Homo sapiens: one gene and its partners. The protein of the gene in region 2 purifies or fractionates together with the protein of the main gene of each other region. This does not show direct contact. Each region holds a gene or a part of one and is shown on either strand. Other genes may lie near its edges. The genes, in order: DRG1, BRD1, ZC3H15 and SULF2.

Region 1 (8,002 bases), about 18 Mb from region 2:
GGCTCATGACTGTAATCCCAGCACAGAGGCAGGCAGATCACTTGAGGCCAGGAGTTCCAGACTATCCTGGCTAACACGGCAAAACCCGATCTCTACTAAAAATACAAAAATTAGCTACTTGGGAGGCTGAGATGGGAGGATCACTTGAACCTGGGAGGCGGAGGTTGTAGTCAGGTGAGATGACACCACTGCATTCCAGCCTGCGTGACAGAGTGAGACTCTGTCTCAAGAAAGCAAACAAAAAAAAGAAGTCAGATCATGTCATTTGTTGGCTATACCTTCTGATGTTTTCCCATATTATTTGGGATGAGACCCAAAGTCTTAACATAGCTTACAAGCTACGGTAAATGACCTGGCCCCTGGCTGCCTCTCTGACCTCCTTTTCTATCACTTCAGTCACTGGGCTTAAGATATCACTGGCCGTCCGGGTGTGGTGGCTCACAGTCTGTAATTCCAGCACTTTGGGAGGCCAAGGTGGGTGGATCACCTGAGGTCAGGAGTTCAAGACCAGCCTGGCCAACGTGGTGAAACCCCATCTCTACTAAAAATACAAAAATTAGCCAGGCATGGTGGCAGGTACCTGTAATTCCATAGTCTGTAATTCCAGCACTTTGGGAGGCTGAAGCAGGTGCATCACAAGATGAAGAGATCGAGACCATCCTGGCCAACATGGTGAAACCGCGTGTCTATTAAAAATATAAAAATTAGCTGGGCATGGTGGCGTGTGCCTATAGTCCCAGCTACTCAGAAGGCTGAGGCAGGAGAATCGCTTGAATCCAGGCGGCAGAGGTTGTAGTGAGCGGAAATTGCACCATTGCACTCCACCCTGGTGACAGCAAGATTCTGTCTCAAAAAAAAAAAAAAAAATAGCTGGATGTGGTGGTATGCTTCTGTAGTCCCAGCTGTTCGGGAGGCTGAGGTAGGAGGTTCTCTTGAGCCCAGGAGGTCAATCTGCAGTGAGCCATGATCATGCCACTGCACTGCAGCCTGGGCAGCACACAGACACCCTGTCTCAAAAAAAAAAATAATAATAATAATAAGGCCGGGCATGGTGGCTCACACCTGTAATTCCAGCACTTTGGGAGGCCGAGGCGGGTGGATCACCAGGTCAGGAGATCGAGACCAACCTGGCCAAGGTGGTGAAACCCCGTCTCTGCTAAAAATACAAAAATTAGCTGGGTGTGGTGGTGCGCGCCTGTAGTCCCAAGCTGCTCGGGAGGCTGAGGCAGGAGAATCGCTTAAACCTGGGAGGCAGAGGTTGCAGTGAGCCGAGATTGCACCACTGCACTCCAGCCTGGCGACAGAGCAAGACTCTGTGTCAAAAAATAATAATAATAAAAATAAAATCATGGCTGCTTGGTGGCTCATGCCTGTAATTGCAGCACTCTGGGAGGCTGAGGGGGGTGGATCACTTGAGATCAGGAGTTTGAGACCAGTCTGGCTATCATGGTGAAACCCTGTCTGTACTAAAAATACAAAAAGTAGCTGGGCATGGTGATGCATGCCTGTAGTCCCAGCTACTTGGGAGGCTGAGGCAGGAGAATAGCTTGAACCCAGGAGGCGGAGGTTGCAGTGAGCCGAGATCACGCCATTGCACTCCAGCCTGCATGACAGAGCAAGACTCCATCTCAAAAAAATAAAATAAATAAAATAAAATCAGGCTGGGCATGGTGGTACATGCATGTAATCCCAGCACTTTAGGAGGCTGAGGCGAGCGGATCACCTGAGGTTGAAAGTTTGAGACCAGCCTGACTAACATGGAGAAACCCTGTCTCTATTAAAAATGCAAAATTAGCTAGGAGTGGTGGTCCATGCCTGTAATCCCAGCTACTTGGGAGGCTGAGTCAGGAGAATTGCTTGAACCCAGGAGGCAGAGGTTGTGAGCTGAGGTCGCACCAATGCACTCCAGCCTGGGCAACAAGAGTGAAACTCCATCTCAAAAAAAAAAAAAAAGTCTACCACTGAGGCTGGGCATGGTGGCTCACGCCTGTAATCCCAACACTTTGGGAGGCCGAGGTGGGCAGATCATGAGGTCAGGAGTTCAAGACCAGCCTGAACAACATGGTGAAATGCTGTCTCTACTGCATCTCAAAAAAAGAATGAGGGGTCAGGGTCAGGTGCAATGGCTCATACCTGTAATCCCAGCACTTTGGGAGGCTGAGGCAGGAGGATCACTTGAGGCCAGGAGTTCGAGACCAACCTGGGCAACATTGCAAGACCCTGTCTCTACAAAAATAAAAATTAAAAAAAAGAAAAAAATAGCCATGTGACATGGCACACATGTGTAGTCCCGGATATTCAAGGAGACTGAGGCAGGATGATCAGTTGAGCCCAGGAGGTGGAGGTTATAATGAGCTATGATCATGCGACTGCACTCCAGCCTGAGTGACAAAGCGAGACCCTGTCTCTTCAAAAAAGAGAATTTTAAAAAATGAGGAACTAGAAAGTTGATGGAAGCAGAATATTTTTTTTTTTCTGAGATGGCGCTCTGTTGCCCAGGCTGGCTGGAGTGCAGTGGCATGATCTCGGCTCACTGCAACCTCTGCCTCCCTGGTTCAAGTGATTCTCGTGCCTCAGCCTCCTGAGTAGCTGGGATTACAGGTGTCCACTACCATGGCCAGCTAATTATTTATTTATTTATTTATTTTTGTAGATGGATTCTCGCTCTGTTGCCCAGGCTGGAGTGCAGTGGCGCAATCTCAGCTCACTGCAATCTCTGCCTCCCGGGTTTAAGAGATTCTCCTGCCTCAGCCTCCCAAGTAGCTGGGACTACAGGCATGTGCCACCACATCCGGCTAATTTTTTGAATTTTTAGTAGAGATGGGGTTTTACCATGTTGGCCGGGATGGTCTCAATCAGCTCACCTTGTGATCCTCCTGCCTCAGCGTCCCGAACTGCTGGGATTACAGGCGTGAGCCACTGCGCCGGCCAGTTTTTCTATTTTTAGCAGAGACAGGGTTTCACCATGTTGACCAGGCTGGTCTCAAGCTCCTGACCTCAGGTGATCTTCTCGCTTCAGCCTCCCAAAGTGCTGGGATTATAGGTATGAGCTCCCGTGCCCAGCTGGAAGCAGGATTTTTGACAAATGAATTTTAATATAGAAAAAGGCCAGATACTGTGACTCATGCCTGCAGTCTCGGCAGTTTGGGAGACCAAGGCAGGAGGATTGCTTGAGGCCAGGAGTTAAAGGCTACAGTGAGCTATGATCATGCCACTGCACTCCAGTCTAGGCAATAGAGCGAGACTCTGTCTCTGTCAATATAAATATATATTAATAAAAATAAGATATGCAGGCACAAAAGACTACTTTTTTTTTTTTTTATACAGATTGAATCTTACTTTGTTGCACAGGCTGGTCTCAAACTCCTGGCTCCAAGCAATCCTTCTGCCTCAACCTCCCAAAGTGCTAGGATTACAGGCATGAGCCACTGTGCTAGGCCAAAATAATATATTTTATATGATTCCATTTATATGAAATTCTAAAACGTGCAAACTATGGTGGCAGAAAGCAGATCAGTGGTTGGCTGGCAATAGTGGGGAAGATTGAAAGGAGGCACAAAGGAATGCTGTAGGTGATGGAAATATTCCATGTCTTGATTGGTTTGGTGGTTACACAGGTATATACATTTGTTATTGAACTGTGTGCTTTAACATGGATACAATTAAAAAAAAATTGTACCTCAATAAATTTGGTTAAAAATTTGCTAACCAAGGGTGGGCGCAGTGGCTCATGCCTGTAATCCTAGCACTTTGGGAGGCTGAGGTGGGCGGATTGCCTGAGCTCAGGAGTTCGAGACCAGCCCAGGCAACATGGTGAGGAAACCTCGTCTCTACTAAAATACAATTAGCCAGGCATGGTGGCATGTGCCTGTAGTCCCAGCTACTGGGGTGGCTGAGGGAGGAGAATCGCTTGAACCCGGGAGGCAGAGGTTGCAGTAAGCCAAGATTGTGCCACTGCACTCCAGCCTGGGCAACAGAAAATGTGTCAACTCTTGGGCAAATAGGTGCTGATTTCATGGCATACAAAGCAAATTGACTTCTGGTATAAATCTTCTGTAGCTATAAGAACTTCACGTATGCATGTATGTATTACAGAAAAATCCTTTGACACTTAAATGTAGGGGGAAAAAACACCTCTACTTGAGTATTTGGGTTAGTTAAGGCTTTATTGAACTTTCTTGCGTATGTTTTTTTCTTACTCTTCAGTGGCCCGAACCTGTAACTTGATCTTGATTGTTCTGGATGTCCTGAAACCTTTGGGACATAAGAAGATAATTGAAAATGAGCTGGAAGGCTTTGGCATTCGCTTGAACAGCAAACCCCCCAACATTGGCTTTAAGAAGAAGGACAAGGGAGGCATTAATCTCACAGCCACTGTAAGTGGGGAATATGACATGGGGCAGGCTGCTGCAGGAATTGGAATGGGGAGTGGATTGGGGTGCATGGACCCTGACATTGGAAAATTTCCTGGCTTTTCCCTGCACTAATTGAGATAACACAATGACTTTATAATGACTGACAAGAAAAACTTCAAGATTAGGATAGGAGCCAGTCTCAGACTTACCTTTGCTACTTATTTCCTCTTTTGGATTATCTATTGGGAATGATATGGGCGTGTGGACCAATATTATGCTTGCATAAAGTAGATGGCCGCCAATATCTTCTGTTTTCATTCATTTAACACAAATTTATAGAGTGCCTACCACGGGCCAAGCATTATTTTAGGCTCTGGGCAGGAATGGAAGAGGGAATAGTGAAACCCCCTGCTTTTATATTCTAATTGGATAGAATAGAAAACAATGTTAATGAGTAAAATATAATGTATTCGTCAATGATAAATATAAGAACACAAAGTAGGGAAAGGAGATAAGAGTGTTGGTGTGAGGGTTGCAGTTTTAAGAACGTTGGTCAGGGAAGTCTTTACTGAGGTGACATGAAGGTGTGAACCAAGTGGATATCTTGAAGAAGAGCATTTGCTTCATGCCTCAACCTCCTGAGTAGCTGGGATTACAGGTGCCTGCCATCGCACCCAGCTAACTTTTGTATTTTTAGTAGAGACGGGGTTTCACCATGTTGGCCAGGCTGGTCGGTTTCATTCTGTTGCTTAGGCTGGAGTACAGTGGCACAATCATAGTTCACTGTTAGCTCAAAACTCTTGGGCTCAAGTGACCCTCCTGCCTCAGCCTTCTAAGTAGCTAGGGCTAAGTCACATGCCTCCAGGCTTGGCTAATTTTTTTTTTTTTTTTTTTTTTTGGTAGAAACGGAGATTTGCCATGTTGCCCAGGCTGGTCTTGAACTTTTGGCCTCAAGCTGTCTCCTGCTTCGGTCTCCCAAAGTGTTGGGATTACAGGTATGAGCCACCATACCCAGCCATGTTTTTTATTTCCTGAGCTAAAAAAAAAATGAACTCTTATTACTAAAATGGTAGGACTTTTGGTAGAATAGATTTGGAGGGAAGGAGAAGATCAGGATGTTAAATTTTAGATGCCAGTGAGACATCCAGGTATTTCAGTCAAGAGGGCATGTGGGGTAGGCTGGGCATGGTGGCTCATGCCTGTACATCTATAATCCCAGCACTTTGGGAGGTTGAGGCAGGAGGATCACTTGAGCCCAGGAGTTCAAGACCAGCTTGGGCAACAAAGTGAGACCCCATCTCTATAAAAATAATAAAGAAGGCATGAGGAATTATCTAGGCTGGATATATAAATTTGGTGATTATCAACTTTAATGTCATGGGCCTAACTGAGATCACCAAGGATGTGAGTATAGATAGAAAAGAAAAGAGAGCTGGGTGCAGTGGCTCACACCTGTAATCCCAGTACTTTGGGAGTCCGAGGTGGGCGGATCACAAGGTCAAGAGATGGAGACCATCCTGGCCAACATGGTGAAACCCTGTATCTACTAAAAACACAAAAATTAGCCGGGCATGGTGGCACGCACTTGTAATCTCAGCTACTCGGGAGGCTGAGGCAGGAGAATCGAACCCAAGAGGTGGAGGTTGCAGTGAGCCGAGATGACGCCACTGCACTCCAGCCTGGTGACAGAGCGGGACTCCGTCTCAAAAAAAAAAAGAAAGAAAGAAAGAAAAGAAAAGAGAATCGGCCAGGCACGGTGGCTTACGCCTGTAATCCCAACACTTTGGGAGGCCGAAGTGGGCAGATTACATGAGGTCAGGAGTTGGAGGCCAGCCTGACCAACATGGCAAAACCCTGTCTGTACTAAAAATACAAAAATTAGCCAGGCGTGGTGGCACGTGCCTGTGATCCTGGTACTTCGGAGGCTGAGGCAGGAGAATTGCTTGAACCCAGGAGGCGGAGGTTGCAGTGAGCTGAGATCGCGCCACTGCACTCCAGCCTGGGCAACAAGAGCAAAACTCCGTCTCAAAAGAAAAAAAAGAAAGAAAAGAGACTCAGAGAAATAAGACTTCTTAGACCAAGAGAGAGAAGGAAAACTGAAAGAGTTTGAAATACTGGAAGCCAAGTAAAGTGTTTCACATAGGAGTGACCAATTCTGTCAAATGCTGCTTCTCTGTCAGAATTGAGGACTGAGAGTTTCCTACTAAATTTAACACTTCAGAGCCCAGATGATTTGACTGGCATAGGTTTCAGCTGTCCTGCCCAAAACATCTTTCCCATTATCCCGTCTTAATATTCAAATTTGAACATTTAAGATTATTTCTGTGTTAGTTTCAGTGCTGCCATAATACGGTACCACAGATGGGTGGCTTAAATAACAGAAATTTATTTTTCATAATTCTAGAGGCTAGAAGTCTGAGATGAAGTTGATGGCAGGGTTGATTTCTTCTGAGGCTTCTGTCCTTGGCTTACAGATGGGACTTCATATGGTGTTTGCTCTGTGTGTCTGTGTCCTAATCTCCTTTTCTTATTAGGACCACCAGTATTGGATTATGGCCCCACCCTAATGACCTTATTCTAATTTGATTACCGCTTTAAAGACCCTATCTCCAAATACATCACATTCTGAGATACTGAGGTTAAGACTTCATGTGAATTATTTGGTGGGGGAAGGAGGAACACAGTTCAGCGTGTAACACCTTCCTTGGAGTTTGGACATTTATTTCCTACTAAAAGTCAGTGACACTCATCCCGGATGTATTTAGTAATGAGTTTGCATCTTAGCTAGAATTTTCCAGGTACATGGATATTGGTACACTTGACAAGTATTTTTTTTAAATTTTGTGCTGACTAGTCATCTGCTATTCCCTTTCAGTGCCCCCAGAGTGAGCTGGATGCTGAAACTGTGAAGAGCATTCTGGCTGAATACAAGATTCATAATGCCGATGTGACTCTACGTAGTGATGCTACAGCTGATGACCTCATTGATGTGGTGGAAGGAAACAGGTACTGACTGAGTGTGCAGTCTGTGCCTGACTGAATTGGAAGCCTTGTGATGGAAACAGTATTGGATCTTGAATCTGGCAGAAGTTTATCTTAATTCCAGTTGTCCTACTGTCTTTTTTTTTTTTTTTTTTTTTGAGATGGAGTCTCACTCTGTTGCCCAGGCTAGAGTGCAGTGGCGTGATCTCAGCTCACTGCAAGCTCCACCTCCCAGGTTCAAGAGATTCTTCTGCCTCAGCCTCCCGAGTAGCTAGGATTACAGGTGCGCACCACCACGCCCAGCTAATTTTTGTATTTTTAGTAGAGATGGGGTTTCATCATGTTGGCCAGGCTGGTCTTGAACTCCTGACCTCAAGTGATCCGTCTGCCTCGGCCTCCCAAAATGTTGGGATTACAGGCATGAGCCACTGTGTCCAGCCTGTGCTACTATCTTAAATGATAGTGGGCTTTGGTTTCTTTTTTTTTTTTTTTTTTGAGATAGAGTTTCGCTCTTGTTAGCCAGGCTGGAGTGCAGTGGCGCAGTCTCGGCTCACTGCAACCTCCACTTCCAGGTTCAAGCGATTCTCCTCCCTCAGCCTTCCTGAGTAGCTGGGATTACAGGCCTGTGCCGCCACGCCTGGCTAATTTTGTATTTTTAATAGAGA
Region 2 (8,002 bases):
ATCCACCCGCCTCGGCCTCTCTCTTTTTTCTTTTTTTTTTTGGAGATAGGGTCTCACTCTGTCACCCAGGCTTCAGTGCAATGGCACAATCTCCGCTCACTGCAGCCTCCACCTCCCAGGTTCAAGCGATTCTCCTGCCTCAGCCTCCGAAATAGCTGGGATTACAGGCATGCGCCACCATGCCCGGCTAATTTTTTGTGTTTGCAGTAGAAACGGGGTTTCTGCATGTTGGCCAGGCCGGTCTCAATCTCCCGACCTCAAGTGATCCACCCGCCTCGGTATCCCAAAGTGCTGGGATTACAGGCATGAGCCACAGAACCTGGCCCTATCCCCAGTCTTTAAAAGAGTACAGCCCATCCTCCAATCCTCACAGGTGCCGAGTGCTGCGGGACCCCACGGGAAGCAGGGAGCCCAGCACTGCTGCCATGAGGGGAACAGAGGGCGAAGCAACGATGGCCCAGCTTGGTTGAATCCCATGATGGCGGGAAGCGGACCCCACGATGGCGGGAACGTGGACCCCGCGATGGCGGGAACGTGGAAGAGAGGAAGAGGGCCAGGCCTCATCCCAGAAGAAGCGACCTAGCACGGGTCAGTGATTCATCAAGAGAAAGGGTAGGCCAAGAAATCAGGGATATGGGACCTTTAGACAAATAAGCCAAACACACCGTGATTTCTGCTCAGTTTGTGGCTCAGAGCTGGAGCTGAGGTGCTGGAGCTCTATGTGCTTTGACAACCCATGTGGGCAGGACACACCCTTCGACAGACAATCCCAGAGGTGCGACTAACAAGCAGGGTGCAGGGGACAGCCCCGGTTTCCGAGGACCAGTCTAGAGAAGGGTGCAGGTGACTACACATGGCTGCAACACGTGCCTGGGCAACCAAGAAGCACAAGCCCAGGCTGGAGTCCAGGTGGGCCGTGGACACACTCCCAGAGCCCTTTCTACAACATGCGCAAACCACGAAGTTAAAGGGCTGGAGGCAAAGCCAGAGATCCTCCGGCTTCACGCCACCCTCAGAAGTTAGCCGAGGCCCACTCTGGATGAAAACCCCCAACTAAGCTGCTTTCTGGGTCTGCATCGTCGAGACCGGCCACCCCATAGGGAGCCACAGCCACACAGTCCTCTTGGTGGGCACCCAAAACGCAGCCAGTCTGAAGTGACAGGTGCTGAGCGTAAAATACACATCAGATGGCAAAGAAGGTGAAAAGCTTATATATCCTCAGTAACGTTTACCGATCCCATGTTGAAATCAACTCTTCCATACACTGAGTAAAATAAGACATATTATTAAAGTAAATTCCACCTGCTTCTTTTCCATTTTTCAGTGAGGCTACTAGAAAATGTAAATGATGTATGCGGTTGCATGCTAGTGGCTCCCGGACCATGCTGATAGGGAGCTGGCAACACAGAGCAGGACAGAGTCTGCTAGAAAGAGCGTCTTCCACCTCCTCCGGACACGGCGCCAGTTCTTACCGTCTTCCCAGGAGAAAGGCCGCCGCGGTGCCGCAGCAGGCCGCTCAGGCAGGTGCATCCCCGAGGCCTCTTCCAAGCCGATGCTGTCCACCTCGCGCCGGGCCTGCCTCAGAACAACACCTCCCTGATCGCGCAGCCTCACCGCGGCTCTATAGAACACGGTGTCCCTGGCATTGTACTTCATGCAGTTATCTATAATGAGATCAAAATCCTCCTCAAACTCATGGAGGTTTTTATACCCTTGAGCTTCTAACCGTTTCCTCATTGTGGCAAAGTCCATGGGATGTTTAATGTGATCCAAATAATCTGGTACCTAATTTTAGGGAGGAAAAAGAATCATTTACAAACTAAAACAGGATATTAGTTGACTCTATATTTATTATTCCATATAACCCACAAGCCCATCCTATCTGAGAGCCACACACAGACACGCAGACGGTACAGACATAAGACCCAAGTACTGCAGGGACCTTCCCGACCCCAGCTCCTTCAGCTAAAGCACGCTGGAGGGTGCCGGGCGGATGCTGCCACAGCCCAGGGTACTGTCTGCACAGGGCCTCTTGCCCACTGCACTTTCAGTATTTTACAATGAAATGTATCACTTTTATAATTTAAAAACAAATACGTTAAATAAAAACGAGAATTAAGAACACAAGGGATGTACTCTAGCCAATCACACGTTTCCCGGTCAAACGGCAGCACAAATCCACAGTCACACATGCGGCAGGACAGACGAGCGCCGCAAACACCCACCTCCTTCAGACTCACGGGCTGCGCAAATATCCTGGCGGGGTCCTTGTCTTGCAGCTGGTCCAGCACTGAGCGCAGCAGCACCGTCAGCGGGGTCAGCCGCAGCTCCATGGCGACCTGCTCCACCTTCACCTGGGGGGGCCCAGCAGAGCCTCAGCTTTAGGGAGCCGCACATGCGTCTCAGCCCCACCACGCGCCCCACAGCCACAAGCAGCCCCCACAGGCTCCTGTGCTTCCGTCCAGGCATAGGACAACGCAGCCTCCACTTAGGGCTCTGCAACCCATGGCAGCCAGGCACCCAGCCTGGGCTGAGCAAGGCACTGCTGTGGGCCAGGACCCACCGGGTGCAGCCCACCCTCTGCAGGAGCTGCCAGCGTCCCACCCACGCCCCGTGGCCAGTGGTGCACTCCACGCGGGACAGGCCCAGCCCCACCTGCTCACGCTTGAGCTTCTCCCGCTTGCGCAGCAGCTCGATCAGCAGGCGAGCGCGCTCCAGGTCGTGCCGCAGCCGCTGCCAGTACTTCAGCTTCTCTTTGGCAGCCTTCATCTCCTCATCATTTTCTCTCTGAGAACAGTGAACACTTCCGTCAGTCAAACCCAGAGGCTCCTTCTGCAAAAGGCCTCAGATACCATGCAGGTGAGACCCCAAGAGGCATCCACGTCAGGGGTCCTGCAGGCCCATCCTGGGGAGGACAACAGACCACCCTCACTAGAGAGCCCCAGGACAGCACCGGGACAGAGGGGACAGAGGAGACAGAGGGGATGGAGGGGACAGAGGGGACCGCCAGGCCAAGGTGAGCAGGGGGCTGGCCCCGGTGCACAGGTTCCACCCTCCAGAGAGGACAGAGGCCTCCGCAAGCTGGCGGCGGGGGGGGCCTTCACAGAACCAGAAAGGCCCACAAAGGCGGGGCCAGGACAGAATGGGGGACCCTTGAGGACCCACCTCCAGGACAGCTGGGAATGGAGGGAGCGGCTGGAAAGAAACCAGGTGCACAGAAAACCACATGCTGGGCCCATCCTGGCTTGGACAGAGCATGACGGGGGCCTGGCACACAGCCGACCTGCTGCCCTGCCCTGCACAGCGCCTCCATCCCGACACACGTTTCCCCACAGCCAGGGTCCCATTTCCATTGATAGCACCTGCTCCCTTCTCAGTGGACAGAAGAGTGCGCCAGACAGCACAGGCCGCCAGCCTCAACCCAGCCAACATCCACACCAGGGTGATCAGAAGAAAATCAGAGCCCTGCAAAGGCCATGACACAGATGGTCGCAGGAGAGTAGGCCACCTGGGTCTGCCCTCAGCCCTGTCCTCACCATGTCCCCCAGGCCTGGCCGCATGAGGCCTGCTCGTCACAGTGCCGGGGCACCCTGACCCTACCTCAAAGGGGAGAGGAAGTCAACGAGGGAGTTGGCCTGAGTGGGCCCCCAACACCTGTCATCCTCCACAGCTGCAGGACACGCGCGCCCTGCCAGCCTCAGGACAGCCGTGGCCATCAGTTTCTGGCACATGCTTCACAGCCCTGAGACCCTCCTCTCCCCCAACGCCTCTGTCCCCGGGTTCCCACCTGCCCACCTCAGGGTACTGTCATAGCTTTTCAAAGGACCGAGGGTGTGAAGGCAAAGACTGCTGGACTACAAGATGCAAGGACCCCGGACTCCAAACTGCTCAGAAAAGGAGGCTCAAGGAGGGAGGCCGAGCCCCGCACCCCCACCCCCAAGGCCAGGCCTCTCCATGGCGAGGCAGAGCGTTGCTGCGCTGATGTCCCCTGAAGTGAGGATCTCTGGGTTTTCCTCAATGCTGCTGAACACCCTCAGGCAGGAAATCGGGGCTAAGAGTAACAAGATCCACATCAACTCAAGCAAAGGCAGGAAAATGTGGGCTCCAAAAACCAAGCTCCCCGGAGCATCTGAGTATTGCCTGTCCCTCAGCTTGCAATCGACACTTCTGAAAACCTCGGCCAAAAGGACATTTGGCCTGGGAATCTGTTACGAAGCGGAAGAAATCTCCTCATCACCAGGAAGCCCTTTATCACGCACTGGCTGCTAAGCAAACTTACTAGTCTGCTCCCCAACCTGGTTTAACAAACGCCATCGGCAGTGGCAGGGGCCCCGTTGACAGCACCTGGGCCCAAGGTCCCATGACACATGCAGCCTCATCCACTCAGAAGGATCAAGGTTCCTTACTCGGCTCTCAAGGGCTCGATATTTCCCATGTAAAAATCAACAGTGGGAGGCTCCACGAGAAAGGACAGAAGTGAAGAAGCACTCAGGCATCCCCACTGCCGGGAAGAAGCTGAGCGCCTCCGCGTCCATTCCAGACACATGGGGGAGACACAGGGCAGGGCTAGGCGACGGTCAGGTTAAAATCGCCTCTGCTGGGAGGACAGGCCAGCTCCTGGGGTGAGGGCCCACAGTGTTACAGAGTGGCCGACCCCAGGCCTCCTGGCAACAGCACCCAGCTCCTGCCACTGGGCCCAATGCCGCCAGCAGGTGCGTGGGACTGGCAGAGGCCACACACGCAGCACAGCAAGGACGATGTGGGCAGCAGCGCCCAGCATGCCACAGGACAGACACTGGGAAAGCTGCAGGATGCGCTCCCAGGACAGGAAGGGTGGGCCACGGGAGCAGGAGACAGTGGGACGCCACCAGCATACACACAAATCGCTGCTCACCCTTTATAAAGCTAAGCTGCCGCCCCCGTTCTCCCTGCGGCCTTCAACGGCCACACACACCAGAACAAAAACCAGGGCCTATATGCGCAGCCAGCACAGACCCGCCATCGCTGCAGCACCCTCGGCGCCTGCTGGCCTCTCAAGAGACCCCGTCCAGTTCATCCACCTGCCCCCACCACAGGGTCAGGCTGGGGCAGGTACACAGAGACACAGAGGAATCAAATGCATCAGGTACTTCCAAAGCTTCAAAACCATGAAACCACACCAAGCCGTGGCCATCCCTGGCCAGGAGAAGGCAGAAGCACAGTCTCTCCCAATAGCCCGTTCACACAGAGGCAGGTTTCCAGGCTCTCCACGCCGACTGCTCTGCTGCGGCTCAAGTCCAGGCAGCTCCTTCTGCTCCTTCCCAGGTGACTTCGAGAAGCTGCCCCCTCTGCCAGAAGAGCTGCTCTGGCCGGGCTGTGGGGATGTTCTCTCCTTACAAACGTATTCTGCACACAACAGGACGTGAGGCCTAACAGGCAGCGATGAAGCAGAGGGGGCCCAGCTGGCAGGTTCCAGCGGGTCACCTCTTCTTTGCAACCCTCCCCCTTCCCTTGCCTGGCTCCACCACGCCCCAGGCCACCCCCAGCTGCCTGGGTCCCCGTGGCCCCTGCCCACTGGCCCACGTGTCCTGCTACTGCAGGGATTCTGGCCCTCGTGTCCCAGCTTATGAGAGTAGAAATGATGATTCCCACCGCTGGACGTCCCGTTTGGCCACATCCATGCCCACTTTCCATGGAATCTGCCCTTCAACAGCTCCTCTGTGACTTACCTGGAGTTCTGTCCAGCCCCGAGATAAGACCCAAGATCTGAACCCTCAACTTCCTCCCAAAAAAGCCTCTCTTCCATTCCCCAACATCGCAGGGGCGGAGACCAATGCCTCCACTCTCTTCCTTTCCCCAACATCGCGGGGGCCGAGACCAATGCCTCCACTCTCTTCCTTTCCCCAACATCGCGGGGGCCGAGACCAATGCCTCCACTCTCTTCCTTTCCCCAACATCGCGGGGGCCGAGACCAATGCCTCCACTCTCTTCCATTCCCCAACATCGCGGGGGCCGAGACCAATGCCTCCACTCTCTTCCTTTCCCCAACATCGCGGGGGCCGAGACCAATGCCTCCACTCTCTTCCTTTCCCCAACATCGCGGGGGCCGAGACCAATGCCTCCACTCTCTTCCTTTCCCCAACATCGCGGGGGCCGAGACCAATGCCTCCACTCTCTTCCATTCCCCAACATCGCAGGGGCCGAGACCAATGCCTCCACTCTCTTCCTTTCCCCAACATCGCGGGGGCCGAGACCAATGCCTCCACTCTCTTCCTTTCCCCAACATCGCGGGGGCCGAGACCAATGCCTCCACTCTCTTCCTTTCCCCAACATCGCGGGGGCCGAGACCAATGCCTCCACTCTCTTCCTTTCCCCAACATCGCGGGGGCCGAGACCAATGCCTCCAGCCCCCAGAGCTTCCCGCCGCTCAGCCACTTCCTGACTCTGGCCTCTTAAGAGCCCCCCAAACCGTGCTGTCCTTTCCAGGAGCCCTGGAGGCTACGAGGTGAGGACAGAGGAGAGATGGAAAGCCAAGTCACATCATGGAACGGAAGATGCGGTTAACTCATTCAACAGCCAAAAGACATTCACTGAAGCCTCAACTCTGTGGACACGTGAGGATCTCACTTGGAGAGGGGCTGGCTCACAGACCTGCCCGGGGAGCCCCAAGTTCCATGGACAGACACACAGTGGGGCAACCCAGGTGGACGGCACGGGAGACCTGGAATATTCCACAGCCAAGACGCACCAAGGCCGTCAGAAAACTTTGGACCCCACCACACCAAATCAGACCCACAAACCACCACCTGCCAGACCAGAGCACCAGACTCTGTAGTTCCCTGGAGCACAAGGCAGCCACGGCAGGTGACTGAACAGGGCTCACGCTGCAGAGGCAGAGTCTGCGAGGCAGAGACAGCACCGGCCACCGCACCACCGCACGGGGACCCAACCGTGAACCCTGTAGACTCAAGCTTCCTGTGAGCAAGTCACCACCTCACAGCAGAGCAGGATGGTTTCGCTTCGTGCCCAGGATGGCAGTGAAAAGCACCATGAGGAAATTCCAAGAGGCACTCAGGCCACGCGACGCCAGCAGCAGACAGCTCTTCCAAAAGACCAGCGGCTCCTCACTAGGCAGCGTGGGCAGAGGGCGCTGGCCGCAGGTCCTGGGCCGTGTGCAGAGCTGCTTGTGTTTTCAATTACTTTTGTGCATCTCACAGAAGCTACTTCACTCTGTAAACCCATTTTTTCAGAACTGTTTCACAGTATCAGATGAGTCTATAAACTCAAACCTACTATCAAAATGTAAGAGTTTGGGTTTGTTCTTTTAAAAAGGAAAAGTCCTGCTCCTTCCCTCCCACTCTCTCAGCTCTCTCGAGCCCTCCCCACCCCACCACAGTCCCAGCTAAACCAACCTTCAGAGCAAGGCCCTCGAAATAAACCACTCCTCACATATTTCCAAAACCCACCCTCCAGGCCCAGCACACAGACCCCCACCCACATGGCCCGGGTGTGCTCACCGGGTCCCACTCCTGCTGTCCCCAGCCCGGACGCTCATGCAGCCACAGCATAACACATCCCTGAGCATCCCCAGTCCCCAGAGCTGGCCACTGCCCATCAGCGTGTGTGCGGGCAGGGCAGGGCGGGGGAGCGCAACTCAAAACGGAAGAAACACCCAGTGACAGGCATGGATGAGAATCACCCCCCGAGTCGCAGATCCAGAGCCCAGTGCACCCGACTCCTCCTACAGCTCCAGGGCTGGACGAGACGGAGGCTTCCCAACGGGGAGCCTGAGCCCAGGGGGCAGCACCGTGACCAGCCTGAACCAGGTGCCCTCTCCCTGGAGGGTGGGGGTGAGAGACGCAGAAAGGCTGTGGGGGCCACGAGCCACGTACCTGCTGTGAGCTTCGCTGAGACTGCAGGCTGGACTGCAGCCGCCGCAGCAGGGGGGCCCCGTTCCTGGACAGCCGCTTGAGCAGCCAGTAGCTGTGGGCTCGCTCCACAAACTGCTTCTTCCGCTGAATGG
Region 3 (6,858 bases), on a different chromosome or scaffold from region 2:
AAATATTGTTGTACCTCTCCAGTAGTAGCAAATATCAATGTTGCACATGAGTCTGACAAACTTTGTTGCAGTATTTTTTGAAAAAGCTCATCAGGTCCCTGGACCAGAACATAAAAGAACATCTAGATTACAAGATGTCAGGCTAGGAGGACCTTCTTAAAGGCAAGTGGACACATTTCAAAGGAAACAAACTATGATCACTGAGAAACAAATGGAATATTTGAACATCTTGTTCACTAAGAACCCATACCCAAACCTCAGTCTTCAGAAAGAAATGGCCTCAAAGACATACATCCAACGGTACTGCAGGTTAGGTTAAAGAATGATAGCACAAAACACAAGAAAGCAAAATGCAAGCATATTCAGCAAAAGCAAGAAGCTCAACAACTGCAATTAACTGAGGGTGTAGTCAAGACCAGTCCTTCCCAGAGAAATAGACACACCACCCAGATCCCCTAATGATGCCTATCCTGTAGCTCTAATGTATACAGATGATTGGACACTCTCATGCCAACTCAGCGTATGCCCCAAGGTTAAGGTCCCTACAGATGACTCCATTAGCCACAAAATAATCCATTCTGGCTGCCGAGATTTTAACAAACACCGCCTCTAACCCATTTTGGAATCCTAAGTTTGTTTTTCAAGCGTCAATTATAACGTCTTTTGGTTCCTCCAAGTAGAGAGAGACACTAAACACAAAAGGTGACATATTGTAATGGTTCCCATACAAGAGAATACTTTTCAGCAATAAGGAACATACTAGAAATATACACAACATGCATGGATCTCAAAAACACTGCATGGTGTGAAAGCAAGAAGAAGGACACAAAGGCTACCTACTGTATAATTTATATGAGTTCCTAGAGTGGTAAAAACTAATCTATCCTGTCAAAAAAATTAGTGGCTGCACGTGTGGAAAGAATTAAATAGAAAGAGGCACAAAACAAATTTAGTGGGGTGATAGAAATGTTTCAAGTCTTAATTAGGGTGGCAGCTACCTGGGTGAATAAATTCCTCAAAACACATAGAACTATACATCTAGAACCTGTACATTTTATTTTACATAAGTTATACCTCAACAAAAAATAAATTAAAAAAATAATATATATTAAATGTAGAAAACACAAAATCGGGCTTAATTTCACCACTTTGTTGTTGTTAATATTTTTAGTTAAAAAGTGCAGTTGTCTTATTTTGCATTTTTCTTTGGAGATACCTTCATTATTGAAACTAAAATTGCTTTCTCTTTAGCTAAAAAATAATTTCGTCACAAGATGACTAGAATCATAACATATGCATCATTTTAAAAGTTGATGGATACTATAAACAACTTTCACACATAATTCCTTAAAATAAGAATACTAGTCCTACTAATTAAAAATAAAACAATTAGATATAGAGAAAGCTCTACAATGCATGAAGTATAATTTAAATTGTCTAAATTATTACATAACATTTAATTTCAATGGGAGTTTTACTTCGTATCAGGGTCCAATCTCGAGGAAAACGACATCCCTAAAATGTCCTTGGTTTTCATAAAAGTGAATGCCATCCGATCAGCAACCCCTGAAATTTACCTAAGTGCCACGAATCCAGATTGTTCAAATAAGGTAATAGAAAACACAGATGTGAAGGTAATATTTTGTTTTTAAGTGTCTGGCTATAGTACTTCATGACAGTTTTAAACTGTACAAATTGGCAATAAGAATACCAGTTCTCCTCCAAAGTTGGAACCTGGCCAAGTATAGCAAAATTCTTAAGCATTTTCTTAAATCCAATGAGCAGACTTTACACCTTATGCGGTAAAATGGTCATGGCTTTTTCTAATTATATCCAAAGTACAAGAGGTCCTATTTAATTATGAGGAGGATTAATAGCAGAAATCGAGGGAAGAAATACCTCGTTGGGGTCTGTATGGTATGTTTACGTAATGTCAAATATGGTTCATCTTTTAAGGAAACTCAATTCAGTTGTTGGAAAACAAGTGCACAACATGTAAGAACGTCAATAGCGTTCCTTGGCCATTAAAGGGCTACAGGCTCAATGTGTTAAACGAATATATATACACACACATATATACACATATACACACACATAGATGTATACATATATACACGCGCACACACACACATATATCTCAAACTGGGTTACGGGACTTCACACAATTAGTGACACTGAAACCTAATCTCTTTTAAGGCGTTATCCTATTTAATCCACTTCAGAATGTAAGTACCAAGCTCTGCGTTCAAGACCCTGGGTTGTGACGGAAAGTCCTTCCATTCTTTATGGGACTTTAAACATTTCAGAGGTGGATCGAAAAAGCCACCAAGTCGTAATTTGTTGGTTCAAAAGAACTAACAGTACCATCCCTGGGTGACGGGTAAAGAAATAACGAACACAAAGACTCGTCATGAGTCGGTCTTCCAGAAAGACGCTGGCCCGAGACCGTTCAGCGTATTTCTTCACACATAACCTTGGAAAATCTCCTCAATTCTGAGAGGACTAGCGAAGGATAAAACCCTGTGCCAGTCCCGAGGGGTCATTTCGCACCCGGGTGCATGGGTGGGTGAACACGGGCGTGTGGGCGGAGAGGCAAAGCCCAGGTGCGGGGGCGCCAGCAGCGTCACTATAGTAATGAGAGAGCTAGCGTCATCAGGGGCTGGAGAAGGGGCAGTGGGCCACACAGGCCTAAGGGAGGAACACGTGGCCCGAGGAAGCGAGCCGGCTCCCAGGGAAGCCCGGAGCGGGGAAGTGGCTTTCCGGAGGGCTCGCGGCGTGAGTGGGGGAGGGGTGGGTACTCACTTCGATAATCTTCTCCTTCTTTTTTTGCTCCGCCTTTTTGCTGCCCCCGGCCTGAGCCTGTTTCTTGGGGGGCATTGCGGAGACAGATGGCACCGGCCAGACTTACGCGCAGCTGAATACCGTCAGGGGTTCTGGCCCTGCGGCAGGACGAGGAGGAAGACCGGGGCCTCACTCGCCGCACCGCACGGAAAGCGAGTCGCTCATTGGCCCCGCAAACGCGGCCTTTGCGACAGGTCGATGTCGCAGAGCATAGTGGGTAGCGAGGAGCGGCTCCCGGAAGCGGAGCTGCGCGTGCGCGCCCACTGCGTCCCACTAGGAGGGGGCAGGGACGGGACGTGGGAAAATGACTACGCGTCACTCGTGATGTCGCGCATCCGATAGGCCCTTTTCAGATGGCAAAAGGCCTGAGGGTGAATCTGGGCGAGCTGGTTGAGTCCATGCGTTTGTGCTTCCTCTCAGTCCACTTTCGCTTACGATGGGGCGACTCTTGTCCATCGTCACCTCACCGGGAAACTTTTCCTGCCGGGCCAGTTAATGGTCCCCTGTACCATCCCCATCCTGAGTGACTACTAAGCAGCCGCAGCGACTCGGGGTTGCTCCGTGACCACGTTACTCAGTTAACCTTCTTGTTCCCTGGAGAGGCGGAGCTGAATGGCCCGTGAGTGTCGCGTGCTTCAGATTCCTGCGAAGGATTATTTAAAAAATGGAAAAAGTTAACTTTCATTTGCAGGGTCCCTTTCATTTGAAGAGCATCTGAGATGGCGTCCCAGATAAGGAGGCACTTGAACTCCTTAGAAGTACTGTATTAAGTTATTTTGAGACTTTAGGAGAGTGCCTAGGTGATTCCTAAAAATTCCTTTATAACGTGAAAGTAACCAAACTTAGTTAGAACTTAGTTTAAGTGCTTGGTAGCTCCAGAAATTCCTTGGCACATTACACACACTATTTCATTTAGTTATCACAACGACACTTAGGTGGGAGTTGTTACTGTTTTCGTTTTATAGATGAAGCAGAGAAAGGAAGAAAGATGCCCAAAGTTATATTAAGGACAGAGCCAGCAATTGTAATCTTGGCAGTCCGGCTTCAGCCTATATGCCTATTACCTAACATTACAAACTTAGATCCTGTTTGAAAAGGTACTTGAATGATGAATGGGACCCATTGATATTTGTACAAACGAAAATACTATTTTTTAAAAATGTACAATGCTTAGCTGTTATTTTTTAAAATGATTATTGTTTAAACTATTTCTGTTAAGAAGCATTGTGGAACCAAGAATCATCTTTATAGATAAAAGTTTTTTTATCTTTTTCATTAATTTGAATAGGGAGAAAACGATAAGCCCCCCTACTTAGTCAAATTGATTATTTGCTTAGTAATTTTCTACGTAAGATAATGTCAAGGAACCCCAAGTATGTTTTGTGTGTGTATGTGTGTGTGTAGAAGAAATGTGATAGCTACTAAAAAGAATTGTGTCGAGAATGGCAGGTGTATGTTGACACACTTTTTTTCATTTGGGCTCATATTGGCAGGTTAATGGGCTCCCCCCCTTTTACATATTTTCATCTTTATTTTTTGTAATTGTCATAGTTCTTGTCAGAGGATGGAGGGATGCAGCCAGCCCCCTCTTTACTCAGTATTATTATCCATTTGATTATTTGGGGATCGTCTCCTTTGAGACTTTGTTTGCATATGGAATGTAGTTGTCTTAACTTCCTACTTTTAGTGCCCCAAAGATGCCCTTTGGGCCTTTGATTTTGAGTAATTTTACTGATTATTATTATGAGGCAAATGAATTATAAGTAACAAATATGGGGAAGTTACAAAGAATCTAGAGTCTCATAATGTTATGATAATGGCTCCAGTTTCATGGTTCATAACTTCTTCTGTCTCCTGACCTTTGCTTTCGGTTTTTTCCTCTGAAGTGTAGCCCAGGTAGAGAACAAAGATCCTTTCTTGCCTCAAGTGGAAAATACACATTTCTGAATATAGTACATGCTCTTATAGCACTCTCCCTCGTACACTATTTCTTCATACATTTTAGAAATAAGGAAGTCCAACTCATTGAATTCACTACTTTTTGAAATAAGGTACATGGTTTTTCCTGGTCTCAAATAGCAAATGGTAGCAGGGCTGGGACTTTTATGTCTTCTACTGCTATTTTTATTGACCTTACAATTCAAACGAAACTTTCACAAAACAGTGCTTAGAAGGCATAGTCCAAGGGTTACAATTCATATACCCAAGAAAGCAGGGCTATAAACTTGAGCGTCAGGATGAGTGAAATACATTAGGAAGTTGTGGGAACAGTGTTAAACCTGAGGTAAATGCCCACCGTAAAAGAACTAAAAGAAAAACTGTCAAACCTGACTGCTTCGATTTGGTAGACAGGCTGTGAATTTACTGCCTTGGATATAGCCATTTGGATAACTTTACATTTATTGGAATGTATCAGATGTAATAGATTAAGGCAGTAGATTTTGTACTGAATAGAAATTATTGTTTGCTATCCAGCATTCTAATGTCCTTCTGTATAGGAAGGAAGCCCTATGTCTCAGGCTTTTAATCTCAAGAAAACAAGACAAAGACTCAAAGTGTAGGAATTTTTCAGGGCATTAGAGTGCATGTATGGTATTACCAGTCCAGTGGCGGCAGGCCAGTGTGGCAAGATCCATACAAGTCCTTACTTCATTCTTTGCTATTATTTCTTGCTTCTTTTATTTCCCAAGCCTGATTTTCCAGGCTTCCTATAGATTCTGTGAACAATATTTCCATAAACATATTTGAAGACATAGCTAGAAGGTGGCCATCTGCAAGCCAAGAGAGAAGCCTTGGAAGAAACCAAACATGCTGACACCTTGATCTCAGCCTACTAGCACCCAAAACTATGAGAAAATAAATTTCTGTTTTTTAAGCCACCCAGTCTGTGGTACTTTGTTATTGCAGCCCTAGTAAACTAAGACAGACTCTGATTGATAATAGACCAAACTGTGCTATGGGGTGGTGGGCAGAGACAAGACTACTAGTTTATCTAAGTAAATTTTTGTCATAAAGATAGGACTCATTTGGCCATATAAATTGCTGATCTGTTTTATGGGTTAAGGCAGTACATATTAGGAAGTATTTTGATTTAAATAGTGAATGCTTCAAAATTCTGACATATAGTCAGTCTCCTTTAAGACTTTTTTCCCTCTGAATTAAGATATTACAAAAGATTTGCTAGTGTTTCAGTAAAGCATATAAAATGTCTTTTACCTTGTCAGTTTGAATTTCAATACTGTAAACTTTCACTCCAGCCTACACTGATGTAAAATTTTCTTAAAGTAGGTGACTTAAGTGGGTGAATTCTCTGTTTCTATTTGAAATATTTCTTGGTACCATTATGATAATAGTTATTATGGCATTTGTCAAGAAACCAAGATGTACGATTTCCAAATATTTTTTGCCTCGTTGACACTTAAATCATTTCCAATGATTTAAATCAACCATGTCATTTCCCTAGTAATAGTTTTTTAATGGCTTCTTATGTCTTTCTAAAGGGAGTGTAAGGGATTCCACATCTTCCTCAGCCTATAACATCTGCTTTTTATCTTCTGTTATTTCAGTTCTTACTCCTCATTTTAGGCCAGCTTTTCCTATTCCCCACCTTCATATTCCCTCTCTACTCTTATGTGCCTTCGAACTTTTCATAGTCTTATGTGTATACCTCCCCCCTCCCAAAAAAAAACCTATCTACCTTCCATCTAGGTATCATAACTAGAAACTTTGGTGAGTCATCTTTGATTCTTTTTTCAACCTCCAAATCCAGTCAAGTCAATTCATAGTGATTCTATATCTTAAGGAACCTCTTTCAAATTATTTCCTTCCTACTTTACTATCCTATTTCAGGGCCACATTTTTACTTGGACTATTGCAACTGTTTCTCTTGATCTAATTTCTTCACAATGCATTACTCCAAAAGTAAATTTTCAAATGTATGAATTTGATAGTGTCACCCTATTTCATAACTTCTTTGAAGACCTCCCATATACATATATACAGGTTTTAATTTGCATT
Region 4 (8,002 bases), on a different chromosome or scaffold from region 2:
AAGGTCCCCAGAATTTCCTCAGTTCCTGACCTGTCCTTTCCTGAGCCCCCCAGTAAATCCTGTTCCAGCTTGAGGTAGTAAGTGTTGGGCTCTGCTACTTGCAGTCTGTGATGAATGGGTACTTTGGTGGACTCCAAAAAGCCACACTGCCTGGTATTCAAACCCTTGTGTGGGCCCCACCTCATGAAACCGGGCTGGCTTTGGGACCTGTTTTGACCAAGAGAAGGTGGCAGAAGTGATGCTGTGCCGGTTTTGCGGTTAAGCCTTAAGAGACCGTGGCAGCTTTCATTTTTGCACTCTTAGAAGTCAGGCTACCCTGAACCTGCCATACTGCGAGGAAGCCCAAGTAGCCATAGGGCAGAGCCCACATGGAGAATAACTGAGCTCCCATCTGGTGACCAGCAAGAGCTGCCAGCCATTTGAATGGGGTTGTTTTAGACCTGCCAGCTGATATCACATGAAGCTGAAGAACCACCTGGTCAAACCACAGAATCGTCCAAAATAAAATGTTGTTACCTTAAACCACTGAGTTTGGAGTGGTTTGTTATACAGCAGAAACACAACCCAAGAATCCTCAGTGACACTGATCAGAGCCCATTCCCCCAACAGAAATGTCACAAATGACTATGAGGTTAAGACTTTCAGCCTCTTCGGCTAATGAACACTTGGAGGAGAACATCATTCATTCATTCCTTTAGTCATTCATTCAAACAGCCAGTAAGCCTAGCACAGATGGTACAAAGATGAACAAGCTTCAGGACCTCCTGTTCTAGTGAGGGCATCACACACAGTGCCTCAGTTTCCTTACTGATAAAGTGAAGATGATATTAGTCCCTGCTTCAAAGGCTTGCTGTGATGATGAAATGCTGGGCAAAAAGTAATCAATAGATATTAGACATTATTATTACTACACACTTGCAATGCACAATGTAAGTGTCCAGGGACACTTGCAATGTCCCTGGAAGTGTAGCCATTGGGTACAAAGTGTCACAACGGGAGACAAACTCAAATGCCTACGTGGGCCAGGCAGATAATGTAAACGGGTGAAGTGGACGCATAAGAAAACTCCACACCCCACTTCCTCTCCAGCTCTCATCTGGCCACTTTTGGTAGAGATGGAACAGAGAAATATTGCTCCACAATGAGAAAAACAGAAGGGAAAGTGCAATGAAAAGCCAAATGAATTGGTTCACAATGTCAGGCTATAGGGGATGGTGGGGACCACATCTCCCCATTTTTCAGGAGAAGCTGAAAATCCAGATTTTTAAAATGTGAAATCTCGTAGTTGTTACAAATCTGACAGCTTTTTAGAAGGTTCAAACAAAACATTTCTGCGAGCTGAACAGAGCCCCTGGTTAGGTGGCCTGTGATGTCCTATTCTACCAGCATGGCAGAGCAAGGAGAGACTTCGTTGTGTCTCTTTCCTCCTTTGTAAAACGGGGTTGGAAGATCCCCACATCGCTGAGTTATTCCACATTCACAGGAGCGCGCACTTAAACCACCACTAGCCTGTACAAAGTGCTCGGTAAATGTGAGCTTTCAGGAGGGTAGGTTGGGGAGTGGAGGTTAAAGAGGCTGCTCTCCTGGGCTGTGACCGCTGTTCTTTCAGGAAGGGACAATTTAGGGAAGGGAGTTGTCTTTTCAAGGGCACATGCAGAAATATTTAACCCAAGAGCCCTCATTAGAATGTCACACCACTGACCTGGAAGACTAGCTTGGCCCCAGAGTCATCAGAAGTGGAGGGTTCCACCAGCCCTTCTGCAAGGCCGTGAGGTCCCTGCCGTGGCATAAAGGGGACGATCCTTCCTCTGCAAGCAATGCTAGCACAAAACCCCAGCTCTGGCACTGGGGAGCAAGTGAGTGTGTATGAAACCAATCCTCCCAGCCACCTGCTTAGCTTTTTGCAAATGACTAACAGGTTTTGACATCCTTGCCCTGAGCAGTCACCTTCGAGCAAACATGCTAGCCAGATGTGCCTGTAGCTCTCCAAGCCTCTTTCTTTTCTTGCTTCCTTCATTCAAAAAAAAATTTACTGAGTATCCAAAGAGTGCCACCCTGGTTCTCAGTGCTGGGGATACAGCGATGAACAAGACAGACAATGTCCCTACAAGCACAGAGCTTGCTTTTTAGTGAGGAGAGAGAAGACAAAGGACAAATAAGCAAACCAGGCTAATTCCAGAGAGTGATAAGTGTTATAAAACATAAAACAGGTTGTCCTTCCAGCATTCTAGGGAGGTGACATTTCAGCTGAGATCCGAAGCATAGGAAGGAGCCAGGTCCTTTCCCAGTGTTTGATTTAGAGGTGAGTGCAAAACCCAACTCCGGACCAATGAAACAGAAAGCAAAGTCTGCTAGGGTGGGAGTGTTCTGGCAAGGATTTTACTCTCTGATTAAAAGAGAGACAGCAAGGAGTCCTGTCCTATAGTCCCACTTTGTAGGGTGATGCGACGTCTGGAGCTGTGGCAGCCATATTGAGACTATGAGGCAACAAGGCCAAAGACATGATGAGGACAGAAGAAGAGGCTTGAAAGATCCTGGGACCTTGGATGACACTGTTGTACTGAAAAACCAGCGCCTGGACTCCCCTGCTTTGGACTTGGTGTTATGTGAGAATTAAATGTTTCTATTGCATAAGCCACTGTCAGTCAGAAATGTGATTCCTCATAATGAAACCATTTCAATTCACATTAAAATGATCAGGACTCTAAGCTACTAAGAATTATAGTAGGCTTTCCTGGTCTCTGAAATATCCAGATAAGTGGCCTGCAATCAGAAGTCTATGGATAGTATCTGTCTCGAGAGCAGACCAGAAATGTGGCTTTCAGATGGTCTGATTTTCACCAAGCAGGAACATCTCCAAGGCTTCTGTGAGCTAACAGTTTTTTCAATCTCTTTTCAAAAAGTTCCAGGCCAGGCAGGGTGGCTCACGCCTGTAATCCCAGCACTTTTGGAGGGTCACTTGAGCCCAGGAGTTTGAGACCAGCTTGGGCAACATAGCAAGATCTCATCTCTACCAAAAAAAAAAAAAAAAAATTAGCTGGGTATGGTGGCCTGTGCCTATAGTCCCACCTACTTGGGAGGCTGAGGTGGGAGAATCACTTGAGCTTGGGAGGTTGAGGTGGTAGTGAACTGAGACTGTGCCACTGCACTCCAGCCTGGATGACAGTGCAAGACCCTGTCTCAAAAACAAAAAAGCTCCTCTTCTCTGGCTACTGGGGTGGGTCAAGTCACCCGCTGGGGTCCTGACCATGAGCCAATAAGAAAAGCTATTGGCCACATTCTTCCCCTAACACATCTGGCTTCCACATGGCCAAACACATCTTTGGTACTATTTGTGGTCCCTGGGGATGGCCCTGTCCACCAACTTACACACACAAGACCTGGCCATAACAACTCTGAGTTTGGGATAGAATTTATCTAAGATTCAAGCTGGGCCCAGGTGTGCAGAGCAGTGGGCCAGGCCTTCTGTAAGATGACGCTCCATGGCAGAGGCCAGGGCCACTGGGCAACGTGTGCTTTGGAATCACATTAAGAGAACGTGGGGAATTCAAAACATTCTGGTTACAGAGAATTCCAAGAAGCCCTGGCCTGGGCTGGAGGAGAAGCTCTGAAGGCCATGCCAACAGCTGTTCCACCCAGAAGGCATCGTGCTGCCTACAAGGCCCGAGATCCCACATGACCTTAAGCAATTTCCCAAGGGCATCTGTGGCAGAGCAATGAATATTTAGCTCTGTCTGTTAATCACTGAGAAACCAGGCGATGAAGAAGGGGAGGCTCAGCCCGAGCCTTCAGGAACTTCTTGGAAATGTCAGAGAGGTGAGCATGTGGGATATGCTAAAAATATTCATCAAATAGATTCATGACAGGCACTAGGGGGAGGCTGGGGGGAGAAAACCACACTAGAAAACAAAACACATTCTCTCTGGATAATTGTGTCCAGTCCCACAGCTTAAAATAACATCAATATGCCGATAACTCCCAAACTTAGGTTGCCAGCCCCGACCGGCTGCAGACATCCACGTTCACCACCCACTGAGCTTTCAGACATCCAGGTGGGGTTCATCTCAAACCCAACATTTCCACGTCGGAATTCCAGATCACTCCTCCTCCCCAAAACCTTCTCTCCTATCTTCCCTATTTAGCAATCACCACGCACCAGGCTGCCTAGTCACCTTTGACTCCTTGGCAGGATACATCATGAATATTTGGGCTGAATCATTTTTCACTGTGGGGTCATCCCGTACATTGCAGGTTAAGCAGCATCCCTGGCCTCTACCCTCTAGATGCCAGTAGCAACCCTTCCCCAGTTGGGACAACCTATACTGTCTCCGGATAGTGTTAAAATGTTTTCTGGGTGTCAAAATCACCCTCGGTTGAGAATCAAAGCCCTTTCCCTCACTCTGTAATCCAATCCACTAGGAAGTCCTGTGGGCCCTACCTCCAAAATACATCTCCAATCCCCATTTCACTCCATCTCCATTGATACCACCACGGTCCAAGCCACTCTCGGGCCCTCTCTGTTGCCTAACAGTCCCGGTGATACCACTTCCATCTGCACAGCACGCCTCTCACAGGAGCCAGCAGGATCTTCTTGAAACACAAATCATATCATTCTCTGACTTAAAACCCTCCAATGGTTCTCCATTTTATTTTTTAATTTATTTTTGAGATGGAGTCTTGCTCTGTCACTCAGGCTAGAGTGCAATGGCACAATCTCAGCTCACTGCAACCTCCACCTCCTGGGTTCAAACGATTCTCCTGCTGCAGCCTCCCGAGTAACTGGGATTACAGGTGTGCGCCACCGTGCCTGGCTAATTTTTGTATTTTTAGTAGAGATGGGGTTTCACCATGTTGGCCAGGCTAGTCTTGAACTCCTGACCTCAGGTGATCCACCCGCCTTGGCCTCCCAAAGTGTTGCGATTACAGGCATAAGCCACCGCGTCCAGACAGTTATCCATTTTATTTAAAATAAAGTCTAAAATTTCTTAGCATGGCCTGTATTTCTCATCTCTGACGTGCCCTCCCCCACTTACTCCTGACCCTCTACCCTAGTTGACTTTTTTTTTTTTTTTTTTTGAGACAGAGTCTGACTCTGTTGCCCAGGCTGGAATGCAGAAGTGTGATCCCGGCTCACAGCAACCCCTGCCTCCCGGGTTCAAGTGATTCTCCTGTCTCAGCCTCCCAAATAGCTGGGACTACAGGCACGTGCCACCACACCTGGCTAATGTTTGTATTTTTAGCAGAGATGAGGTTTCACCGTGTTGGTCAGGCTGGTCTTGAACTCCTGACCTCCAGTGATCTAACTGCCTCAGCCTCCCAAAGTGCTGAGATTTCAGGCGTGAGCCACCACGCCTGGCCTACCCCACTTGACTTCTATTTGTGTTTGGGGCAGGTGTCTTGGACAGGCCCCTCCCACCGCCTCTGGGCCTTTGCACTAGCTGTTCCTTCTACCTGGCATGCTCTTCCCCCAGATCTTTCCAAGGCGGACTCCTTCCTAAAATCTAGGTCACAGTTCAAAGGTCACATCCTCACAGAGGCCTCCCTGACAGCCTGCCTAAAGTTGCCTCCCACCCCATCACATCATGCAGTCATTTTTCTTTTAAATTTTTTTTTGAGACTGAGTCTCACTTTGTTGCCCAGGCTGGAGTGCAGTAGTGCGATCTCAGCTCACTGCAACCTCCGACTCCTGGGTTCAAGCGATTCTGGTGCCTCAGCCTCCTGTGTAGCTGGAATTACAGGCAAGCACCATCACACCTGGCTAATTTTTGTATTTTTAGTAGAGAGAGGGTTTTGCCATGTTGGCCAGGCTGGTCTCAAACTCCTGACCTCAAGGGATCCTCCCACCTCGGCCTCTCAAAGTGCTGGGATTATAGGCATGAGCCAGCACGCCAGGCCTAGAGCATTTTCCCCGCCTTCTGACAGCCCCTGCATTAGGCAGGAAGACAAAGAGGCCCACGCTCCAGAGCTCTCTTCGCCAAACCCTCCTGCTGATATAGAATATACACATGACATATTGGTCATGCCCCCCAGCATCCAGGACCCTCCCTAGAAGTTTGATTCAACAGGATCTGGTCTTTGCCTTTTTAAACAAATACAGCCAGATGATTCTCATGGTGGGAGGTTAGACAAACACTGCCCCTGGCCCCCCGAAAGCACAGGATCAAGGCCAGGCCCCATCCTTCAGACAGTAAGGCAGAAAAGTCAGGCCTTTGATGCCTCCTGGCCCTGGTGGAAGGGAGAGGCATTGCCCAGGCAGCGTGTTTCCCCAGTCTCCACCTTGGCCAAAATGAAGATGGGTCCATCTGGCCAGCATTGCTCACATTAGTGGCCCATCATCGCAGGCACTGGCCATCTGCCTCTCCAGCAACCGGGCTTCCCTTTCACTGGGGACTCCCCGTGCTGTTTTATTCCAGGCTTTGGGGTCTCAGCAGTCAGCCTCCATCCAGCTCCAGGGAGAGGCCTGTGAGCCTGGCTTAAGCCAATTGTTGGCAACTCATTTCCTTAGCCAGTGACTGGTTTGGACAAAAAACAGTCCAATCAGAGGGAACCATGGGGCTCAGGTGTGCATTGCCAGATCAGAGGCTTGTTCTTTCCTTTTGGGCTTAAACCAGAGGGGATGAGACCCCTCTGCTCCATGACATCTGTCCTGACACCTAAGTTATGGTAACAGTCAATGCCTACTGAAGGCTCACCTGGGTCAGACGCCCTGCTAAGCACTTGACATTGATCATCTCATTTCATGCTTACCACAAGCAGGAGACAGGTGCTATGATCATCATCATTTGTTGGATGTGAACATCAAGGCACAGAAAGGTTAAGTAGCATGCCCCAGATCCCACTGCTGGGCAGGGAGCCAGGCAGTCTGGCTCTCCTAGCCACGGTGCCCACAGCTGCCAGGGACTGCCCGCCCCAGAGCTGGAGAGACATCAGCCTCATGGAAGGCAGAGGAGCGGTGGATAGGAATGGATTCTCATTACAAAATCTGAGCTGTGGGTCCAGCTGTGTCTGAAGCTAGAGTTAGTCACCTTAAGACTTTTGGTTATGAAAACCAGTAAGTCCACTTCTTTTCTCCTTAAGCTGGCTTGAGTTTTTTTCTTCTCTTTTTCCGTTGCTTGCAAGAGAAAGGAACCTGATTACTTTACAGTTCTTCTAGGCAAGTACCCCTAACTGATACTCCATTTGCAACTTGCACACAGCAGCTGCTCAGTAAACACCAGCAGATACGGATGGACTGCTCTCCCTTCCGGTCCATTCACTGCTGGATCTGTACCCTGACACCCAACTGTGGCCAGCCCAGCGCTTCTTCCCCTTTAGGCTCCAAGTGAGGCCTCGTTCCCTAGCAACCACCCCAATTAGGCAACCATGCCATTTATCGGGATGCCAATTAATTATAACGATCTTAATGCCCTCCCAATTAGACAGTGCCTTCAATCCGGCTGGGCCAGGGCTGTCTGTAGATCTCCACCAAGGCCCATTCCAAGGAGGCCCAGAGAAAGCAGGTTTCAGGGAGGGCCCCCTCACCTGCAGATCAGCATTGAGAGAGGCCCCCATCTTCCACATCCGCCCAGGCCTGACACAGAGCACCCTGGCACCACCCCCAGGGCCAGGCCATCGAGACTCCATCACCAACCACAGGAAGGTCTCACCTCTAGGAGAGCTTTTGCTCTCTGGCCACTGTGCTCTGAGTGGGCTGAAATCTTCACCATGGTTCACCTGGCTTTTCCATCAGCTGCATTTGATGTTTCCCTTTGCATTTTGACTGGGGGAGGGGACAGTGTGTCTGCTCATAAGCAGAAGAAAAAGCACCAGGCAGACACATGTTTTCCTTGGGGCAAAAAACCTCAAATACAAACCCGGACTCTCTGTCGGAACAGTGGGGGTTTATGGAAAGTTAAGGGCCTTTTACTTTGCAAAGTTTGACTGTCTGAAGGTGTTTTCTTCCCCTGCATATGTGTTTCTTCTACATCTGGGACAAAGGCCAAGGTCATGGAGGAGAGTCCAG

Evidence for each region.
Region 1: the proteins of BRD1 (region 2) and DRG1 purify together in Homo sapiens (affinity purification with mass spectrometry; 2 studies listed by BioGRID and IntAct, with this or other methods). This does not show direct contact.
Region 3: the proteins of BRD1 (region 2) and ZC3H15 purify together in Homo sapiens (affinity purification with mass spectrometry; 2 studies listed by BioGRID and IntAct, with this or other methods). This does not show direct contact.
Region 4: the proteins of BRD1 (region 2) and SULF2 purify together in Homo sapiens (affinity purification with mass spectrometry; 2 studies listed by BioGRID and IntAct, with this or other methods). This does not show direct contact.

Annotation. Positions count from the first base shown.
Region 1 is NC_000022.11:31,416,050-31,424,051, forward strand, and holds part of DRG1 (developmentally-regulated GTP-binding protein 1), read left to right. Parts: intron 1-4,206; coding exon 4,207-4,376; intron 4,377-7,230; coding exon 7,231-7,361; intron 7,362-8,002. UniProt on the Homo sapiens protein: Catalyzes the conversion of GTP to GDP through hydrolysis of the gamma-phosphate bond in GTP. Appears to have an intrinsic GTPase activity that is stimulated by ZC3H15/DFRP1 binding likely by increasing the affinity for the potassium ions.
Region 2 is NC_000022.11:49,796,333-49,804,334, forward strand, and holds part of BRD1 (bromodomain-containing protein 1), read right to left. Parts: coding exon 7,872-8,002; intron 2,788-7,871; coding exon 2,656-2,787; intron 2,355-2,655; coding exon 2,226-2,354; intron 1,786-2,225; coding exon 1,473-1,785; intron 1-1,472. UniProt on the Homo sapiens protein: Scaffold subunit of various histone acetyltransferase (HAT) complexes, such as the MOZ/MORF and HBO1 complexes, that acts as a regulator of hematopoiesis.
Region 3 is NC_000002.12:186,482,402-186,489,259, reverse strand, and holds the start of ZC3H15 (zinc finger CCCH domain-containing protein 15), read right to left. Parts: upstream 3,001-6,858; 5' UTR 2,878-3,000; coding exon 2,803-2,877; intron 1-2,802. UniProt on the Homo sapiens protein: Protects DRG1 from proteolytic degradation. Stimulates DRG1 GTPase activity likely by increasing the affinity for the potassium ions.
Region 4 is NC_000020.11:47,774,959-47,782,960, forward strand, and holds part of SULF2 (extracellular sulfatase Sulf-2 isoform a precursor), read right to left. Parts: intron 4,697-8,002; exon of another isoform or gene 1-4,696. UniProt on the Homo sapiens protein: Exhibits arylsulfatase activity and highly specific endoglucosamine-6-sulfatase activity. It can remove sulfate from the C-6 position of glucosamine within specific subregions of intact heparin.